Linked DNA regions of Homo sapiens: region 2 is linked to region 1. Evidence: fine-mapped expression QTL. A gene starts in region 1. The other region holds a variant in brackets. All regions are shown on one strand. Distances are between the middles of the regions.

Region 1 (4,525 bases):
TGCTGTGTATACCACCAGCTCCCAATAAATGTCGCATTCAGAGCATTTTTGCACTAGGAAGATTTAGGGTGCAAATGAACTCTGACAGAAGAATCTGTAGTATACAAGGTTTTCAGAAGACAACCCACCTGCTCCATACTTCGAAATAATGAGATTCACAACGGTATGTTATTTCTGCTTACTTCTCAGCCTCTCTTGCCATCTTCCCCCTGCCCTCCCATCCTCTTTTCTTAGCGCACAGAACTACTTCTCCAATGGCTCAACACAGTCTCATCTTTGGACTTTTCCGTCTGTTGTTTCCTTTACCCAGACACTCTTCCCCTGCAACACACACTCCTCCTTTTTGTCTCAGATGTTATCTTACGAAACCTTCCCAGACCCCCTCGCCGGCACTCTCATGTGTTTTACAACGCCTATCATGCCATCCTTGTATTCGCTTTATCAGTTTTTAAATTCTGTTTACTTGGGTGTCTTCTTCAATAGATTATGATCTTTGGCCGGGCGCGGTGGCTCACGCCTGTAATACCAGCACTTTGGGAGGCCGAAGCGGGCGGATCACGAGGTCAGGAGTACGAGACCAGCCTGACCAACGTGGTGAAACCCCGTCTCTACTAAAAATACAAAAATTAGCCGGTCGTGGTGGCGCGCGCCTGTAATCCCAGCTTCTCGGGGGGCTGAGGCAGAAGAATCGCTTGAACCCGGGAGGTGGAGGTTTGAGCCGAGATCGCGCCACTGCACTCCATCCTGGGCGACAGAGTGAAGACTCCGTCTCGAAAAAAAAAAAAAATCATTACCTTTGGGGAAGGCAGTATCCGTGTCTGCCTGGCTCACTGTTTTACCCGTCGCACCTAGTTATTTTTTCAATAAATATTTCTTGATTGAATAAGGAGAGTGGCTTGGAGTTTCAGTGAAAAATGTTCTTCCAAACACTAGGCTTGGTTTTCCGATACCCCACTAGAACTGGATTCTCTGGACTGATACATTTTCACTCTGTGGAGCTGACCGTCCTTTGACCTAGGGTCGCAGGTGGGAGCCCACTGGCCTGAAAGATCCGAGTTTTCAACCTGCAGAATCACCGCCAACATAGGGTTGAGTCGAAGGGCATGAATATTTATGATCCAAAAGCGACTGCTACGCCCTCTAGGCAATGAGCTGGAAAGGGAACCTTCAAGGGCCACCGAAATCCCAGGAAAGGCGCCAGATTCGCTTTCTCCCGGCCTCAGGCAGCTCTCCCTACGAACTACCTCCTCCAGCGCGCCAAGCCGTTAGTCCCGCCTTATCCCCTCAGCTCCACCTACCCAGCGCGCCCACAGTTACTAAACCCTAGCCGCCAGGGTGCACTACGCGTTCCTAAGCCCCGCCTCCGGGGCAAGGGCGCGCTCCCCCTCCCAGCTCTGCCCAAGCAGTTCCGTTAGGAGCGGGAGGAAAAACCGTCCTTCGGGTCCCCGCCTCTCCACTCCTAACGCTTTACTCCCTACTCCCCCTGCGACCACTACACAGCCGGCTACGGAGGCCCCTAATGTACAAATATCCCCCAGGCCCTTGCTCATCCTGATAGGTTTTGTCCTTTCTTAATCGACCCAGTACTAAGGCCTTGTGTTCAGTTTTTCTCCAGGATTCAGACTAGAGAGTTTCTTCCGGCGTAAGGAACTTCAACGCTCTTCACGGAAGTAAAAGTGTTTTTTTGGTTGTTGTTGCCGTTGTGGCTGCCCGCATTCCTTCCCTCCCACCTCGCGGAATTGTGGCGGGAGGGGGAGGAGGAAGTCAGGGCGCCTGCGCGGAGAGGCCGCTTTCCATCCGGGTCCCTGTCCGTGCGGTGCAGCAGGTCGGTAGGCGGGAAATGGCGACTGGCTGAAGGAGCTGGTTCTGTTGCTGCTGCGGGGTAAGCGGGAAAGACACCACACATTGCGCAGTCGGGACCATCGCCGGAGCCTGAGGACACTTCTCTGTCGTCACAGTTAGGTAATCCCCTTCGTCCAGACGCCGCCGCTGCTTCCAATCTCAGTCCTCCTCCTCTTCCAGGGCCGTCTGCCGGGATCTCCTCCCCTTCTAAACCTGGTCCTCCAGCGGCTCTGGCGCCTTGGTAGGCATGCACTCTTTGGCGCCTCGTACGTCCACTGTGCGGAGCCGCTCCTGTCTGGACTTTCCCCTGGGAACAGAAAGGGAGCTCACTTCCCGCCAGCTTCACCTCTTAGGTTGCGGCCTGCGTTGTGATTTCTGGGGTTAGATTTCACTTTGCTACCCACCCCCACTCCGATCTCAAGTTCCTAGTCCCCAACCTCTGGGTAATTAAGTTAGAAGTTTAGCTTTTTTTAACCTTTTTGGCCCACCTCATGTTTTCAGCATTTCATTCTTTGGAGTAGGGTGCTTTTAGGGGGGCGTTGCTCTTATCTCAGTTCTTATAAACACCTTTTCAGAATCTGGAAGAAGGGATTTGACTAAGTTCTGTTTATCTTTTGTACTGTTAAAATCTCGAGTTGACATTGTTACTTTTTCAAATCGGGAGTGGTAGTAAAGAACAGTCCATGTGGAAGGCGTCTGGTTTCCACAGTGGTCAGTTAAAGAGTGAACCTTATTATCCTTAATATTCTCTGCTTTCTTTGGATTTTAAATGTCTGTATGGGTGTTTACTTTTGCATTCTTGACCAGAGTTCTGTGGTAAATAATTGCATAAGTAAATCTTGTTTATTTACTTCTCACCCTAGTGGTGGCTGGATGTGTGAATGATGTTAAACACTTCAGCGTACCTTAGGGAAACCTAAAGAGATCTAAGAGCTCGTAAACTTACCTGAGATCCTGAAATGAAACGTACTCAGTAGATGTTCCTCCGAGGCAGGGATTTATCTTCCTAATGCTGGTAACGCAGTACCAAGATGAATTTCTTCAGTGGGTATACAAATTAGTGACTTGAAATGATGGATTTATCTGTGTAATTTTCAAATTGTAGATTGCTTTGTCTCCCCATTCTTCGCCCAGTTTTAAATTTTCGTTCCTGGTCCATTTTTTATTCTTAGAAAAGGGAAATGGCGTGTTAAAGCTAGTTTTACTATATTTCTTTACTTTTTCTTTCCTTTTTTTTAAATTACATTGCAGACCAATTGTTCATAAAGAGAAGTAATAAGGAGGCTGTTGGTGTTTTCGGAATTTATTAATCATGTTGAATTTGGGATCTTTGTAGGTTTTTTTGTTTTCACTAATCAAATTAAAATTTTAAAAACTGTTCACATTGAATATCAGTTGATATTTATAACTCAGGTTTTCAGTTCTGGATAGGTCCAGTTTAGAGAATTTCACTATTGTTTGCACGATGTTATGGTTAATTTTCAATAATAAACAGGAACACACAAACATTATTATAATCCTCATTTGGTAGACTTTGCCCAAGGTCATAAAGAAAGTCAAGGCAAAAGGTAGCTCTTATGTGAAGGAGTTTTTTAGGATTAAGTTGAGCTTCATACTTTCCTAAGGCGAATAGAATAGTGGAGGTACAGGCACGTTAACTACTTGCCGAGTCAGTTTATTTAAAAAATGGAGCCAAATATGCAACTTAAAGGGATCTTAAATCATTGGTCTAGTGTGTAGGTTTTGTCTGTATTTTAATGACCTTTTTGGGTAGTTAATAGCGTTAATGTTTTTAATAAAAATTAGTTTGCAGCTAGCTGAGTGAGCATTGTAGACCTTGTTTTCAAGAGTTCTCCTAAATTGTTTAGTACTACGTGCATTCAGTACTTGCACTCTTTTAATGCTTTCTCAGAGTTGAAAGAACGTATAAGCTGGCTGGGTGGGGTGGCTCACGCCTGTAATCCCAGCACTTTGGGAGGCCAAGGCAGGCGGATCACAAGATCAGGAGTTCGAGAACAGCCTGGCCAACATAGTGAAACTCCATCTCTACTAAAAATACAAAAATTAGCCGGGCATGGTGGTGCACACCTGTAGTCCCAGCTACTCGGGAGGCTGAGACAGGAGAATCGCTTGAACCCAGGAGGCGGAGGCTGCAGTGAGCTGAAGACCACCCCACTGTACTCCAGCCTGGTGACAGAGCGAGACTCCGTCTCAAAAAAAAAGAATGTAAAAGCTATAAATGATGTAGTCCTTAACCTTTGTGGACTTGTAGCTATATAGAAAATCTAAATAGGATTGCATAGGAATGTCAGGGTTTGTATGTTTCACAAGATTCCATTCTACATAGTGTCTCTTGTGCATTTAACTTGAGCTGGTAATGTTACTGTTTTCCCACTGTTAAGAAATTAAGAATTGGGGAAGTCTTTTCTTTTCAGATTCATCTAGCTGATCTCAAGTTTGTGATTTCTGCTTAAGTGGTTTTTCATGAGATTATTATATAACAGAGTCCATCTAATTCTGGTTAAAGAAACTTGGACCTGTTGTTCACCAAGGATGTACTAGATTCTGGATTTGTAGCTATAGATTTTATTGTCAGTTGAGTAAAATGGCATTTATTTTTATTTTTATTTTTTAGAGATGGGGGTCTCTCTTTGTGGCCCAGGTTGGAGTGCAGTAGTGAACC
Region 2 (4,000 bases), 150 kb after region 1:
ACTGCTGAAGACCAACAACAGAAAAAAAAACATCGAGAGCAACCAGAGAAATAGGCACTGTTTATATAGATGAACAATGATTCAACTGACTGCAGATTTTTCATCAGACACCATGGAGGCGAAAAGGAAGTGAACAACATTTTCAAGCACTGAAAGAAAATAACTAATTTTCTTATTTATTTTTTGAGACAGGTTCTTACTTTGTTGCCCAGGCTGGAGTGCAGTGGCATGAACATGGCTCACTGCAGCCTTATCCTCCTGGGCTCAAGCGATCCTCGTGCCTTAGCCCCTCAAGTAGCTGGGACTACAGGCATGTGCCAACACACCTGGCTAATTTTTGTATTTTTTGTAGTGACGGGGTTTTGCCATGTTGCCCAGGCTGGTCTTGAACTCCTGAGCTCAACTGATCTGCCTGCCTCAGCCTCCCAAAGTGCTGGAATTACAGGTGTGAGCCACTGCACCTGGCCTGAAAATAACTAATTTTCTATATCCAGCAAAACATCCTTTAGGAATGAAAGTAAAATAGAGACATTCTCAGATGATGAAAAACTGATTATTAAAAAAAAAAAAAAGGCTGGGCGTGGTGGCTCACGCCTGTAATCCCAGCACTTTGGGAGGCCAAGGCGGGTTTATTAAAATATATTTTTTGGCTAAGAGCAAAAACCTCATTGTTTAATGAGGTTTTCAATGTATGCAGAAGTAATAAAAGACAAGTAGGATGTAAAGGGAGAAGAATAAAGTGACCTAAAATGGTGGTAAGATTCCTCCTACATTCCAGCTGAGGTGGTAAAATATTGATTCTAAGTATACTGTGGAAAGTTAAGGATGTACACTGTCATCTCTAAAAAAATAAAATTAAACTATACAAAGATGCAGAGTCAAAATCACAATAAATTAAAATGGAAGACTAAAAAATGTTCAAATAACCCAAAAAGCAGAAGAAAAAGTTTCCCTTGAAAATCACAAAATGCTAAAACTCACCCAAGATAAGAAAGATAACCTGAATAGTCCTGTAATTGTTTAAGAAATTGAATTTGTGGTTTAAAATCTTCCAAAATGGAAATCTCCAGTCTCAGATAGTTTTACTGGTAAATTCTACTAAGCATTTAAGGAAGAAATAACACCAGTTCTACACAATGTTTTCCAGAAAATAAAAGAGGAGGGAGTACTTTCTAACTCATGAAACCAACATTACCTTGATACAAAAACCAAACAGTATAAAAAAAGGCCGGGCACGGTGGCTCAAGCCGGTAATCACAGCACTTTGGGAGACCAAGATGGGCGGATCACTTGAGGTAAGGAGTTCAAGACCAGCCTGGCCAATATAGTGGAACCCCATCTCTACTAAAAATACAAAAAGTAGCCAAGCGTGGTGGTACACGCCTGTAATCCCAGCTATTCGGGAGGCTGAGGCAGGCGAATCACTTGAACCTGAAAGGCAGAGGTTGCAGTGATCTGAGGTTGTGCCACCACACTCTGGCCTGGGCGACAGAGGGAGACTCCATCTCAAAAACAAAAACAGTACAATAAAGAAAATTACAGAATAACATTCCTCATGAACATACATGTAAAAATCTTTAACAAAACAGCAAATTGATTCCAGCAAAAAATCAAAAAGAATAACGCACCAGGCCCAAATTGGATTTATGTAAATGGGGAATTCAAGGCTGGTCCAATATTAAAAAATCAACTAATGTAATCTACTATATTAATAGTCTAAC[GA/G]AAAAAAAAACCACATGATCAGATTAACAGATACAGCAATAACATGACAAAATTCAAACTGATTTATGATAAAAATTCTCAGCAAACCAGGAACAGAAGGGAACTTTTTCAACATGATAAAGCCTGTCTTCAAAAACCTACAGCTAATACCATACTTAAATGATGAAAGATCAAATAATTTCCCTTTAAGGTCAGTAAAAAGGTACAGATGTCCACTCTCGCCACCCCTATCCAACACAGTACTGAAAGGCCTAGTCAGTGCAATAAAGCAAGAACAAGAAATAAAAGGCATACAGATTGGAAAGGCAGAAATACAACTCTATTTGCAGATGACATGAATGTCTATGTAGAAAATCTTGAGGAATCTACAAGAAATCTCCTAGAATAAGCAAGTTTAACAAAGTCATATAAAGGTAACATAAAAAACAGATTTCTGGCCGGGTGCGGTGGCTCACGCCCTATAATCTCGGCACTTTGGGAGGCCGAGGTGGACGAATCGCCTGAGGTCAGGAGTTCGAGACCAGCCTGGCCAACATGGTGAAACCCGGTCTCTACTAATACAAAAATTAGCCAGTAATCCCAGCTACTTGGGAAGCTAAGGCAGGAGAATCACTTGAACCTGGGAGGCGGAGGTTGCAGTGAGCTGAGACCACACCATTGCACTCCAGCCTGGGCGACAAGAATGAAACACCATCTCAAAAAACAAAAAACAAAAAACCAAAAAGAAAAACAAAAAGCCATATTTCTATATACTATCAATGTAAGACTGGAAATGATTAAATTTACAGATGTATAGAATATGTAGAATAAATTTCAGTGAACTAGCTACAAATCAGATAGATTCCCTTTAACTTTGAAACATAGCTAGTTTAAAAGACATAGATCTTTCTATTTCATTGCCTAGTTAATTGGCTAGTCTACAGATTACCTGGAAAAAAGTTGTTGTCCCCTTAACTTGGTAGAACTATTCTGCCACAAGGGTCCCTTCCTTCTTGGAGACAGTGCTAACAGTGCCATTTAAGACTCTGGGCCATCTGATCTCCTTCACTTACTGCTGTGGACTCTCCTTAGGGGAATGTCGGGTGCTTCTTCCTCAAGCAGCTCAGCACTTTGTAGGAGAGCATGGATCTCTGGGTGCAGATCCTCCATACTAGCTTCCCCTGAGGCCAGTGCTCTGCAGTGCAATACCAAGGCGACATCTGGATTATAAAAATGAAAATACCGGCATACTCTACTTGCTTCATGCACACAGCCATCATCCAGTAGGCGCCCAATCAAAAAGTTTAGTGACTCCTGCTCTTTCCAATCCAATCTATTCTCGCATGTCTCTTTGGATGGAAGGCTGTTAAGTTCTAAGTATTTTGATGTGTTCAGAGCAGCCAACTTGGAGAAGGAAAACTCACTGGCTAAACTATCAAAGGAAAGTTCACCACTAGTTGAGATCTGTCGAGAAAATCTGGGCTCTGTTTCCTCCTGATTTCTTCCAAGAGTGTGCTGGGTGATGCGGCACAGCCAGATCTGCTTCTCCAGCTCCTCCAGCTTATCCAAGGGCACCACGTCCTCCTGGGCAAGCCAGTGCCCTGCCAAGGTGAGCAGCAGATGGCGCTCCTCCATGCTGCTCCATCCAGTTGGGTGCTCACATGCCACATGGGCCTGGGTTGAGAAAAAGGAAGAAGCTGCTTTGCTTGAAATTGAATTTTTCTTAAAATTCTCATGGCATTTTTTCCAGAAGTCAATTCTTGCTTGTTTTAGTGACCACTGTTCAATGTGTTTTAGGGTCTGCATTTCCTGTGTTATCTGTGAAATTTAACAAAGCAGATTTTAGCCTTTCTTGGATAAAAAAGTATCATAAATGCTAATGTTCCCTAAGTATATCATACTTGTTTGGACAGGGTCTCAGTCTGTCACCCAGGCTGGAGAGCAGTGGTGGCGATCACAGCACACTGCAGCCTCAACCTGCTGGACCCAAGAGATCCTCCCACCTCAGCCTCCCAGGTAGCTGGGACCACAGGTGTGTGCCATCATGCCTGGCTAATTTTTAATTTTTTGTAGAGACAGGGTCTCCCTATGTTGCCCAGGCTGGTCTTAAACTCCTGGGCTCAAGCAATCCTCCTGCCTTGCCCTCCCAAAGTGCTGGGATTATAGGCATGAGCCACTGCACCTGGCCTTATCATACTTGTTAAAACCAAATCAAATCAGAGAACAGAGATTTGGCTACAGATGACCCTAGATATTTTATCTGGAAAGTTATGGTATGAAAAACAATTCTTGATTGATC

What was found. PIP is the estimated chance that this variant, and not a neighbour inherited with it, causes the effect.
Region 2: its variant is the best candidate, but not a certain one, in a credible set for the expression of CTDSPL2 in whole blood (TOPMed, PIP 0.69).

The regions. Positions count from the first base shown.
Region 1 is chr15:44,425,811-44,430,335 of GRCh38, forward strand. It overlaps CTDSPL2 (CTD small phosphatase like 2), which reads left to right and starts at 1,819. Exons shown (of 13, transcript NM_016396.3): 1 at 1,819-1,962. It overlaps LOC124903479 (a long non-coding RNA gene), which reads left to right. Exons shown (of 3, transcript XR_007064605.1): 2 at 1-163; 3 at 484-507. RefSeq lists enhancers at 721-1,328, 983-1,212, 1,329-1,936, 1,493-1,872, 1,937-2,543.
Region 2 is chr15:44,581,040-44,585,039 of GRCh38, forward strand. SPG11 (SPG11 vesicle trafficking associated, spatacsin) reads right to left here. Exons shown (of 40, transcript NM_025137.4): 30 at 2,775-3,519. Among named protein-coding and RNA genes, the nearest start is that of EIF3J, 46 kb to the left of the region's middle. RefSeq lists silencers at 1,367-1,538, 3,356-3,405. The variant GA/G (reference allele first, on the strand shown) is at 1,722.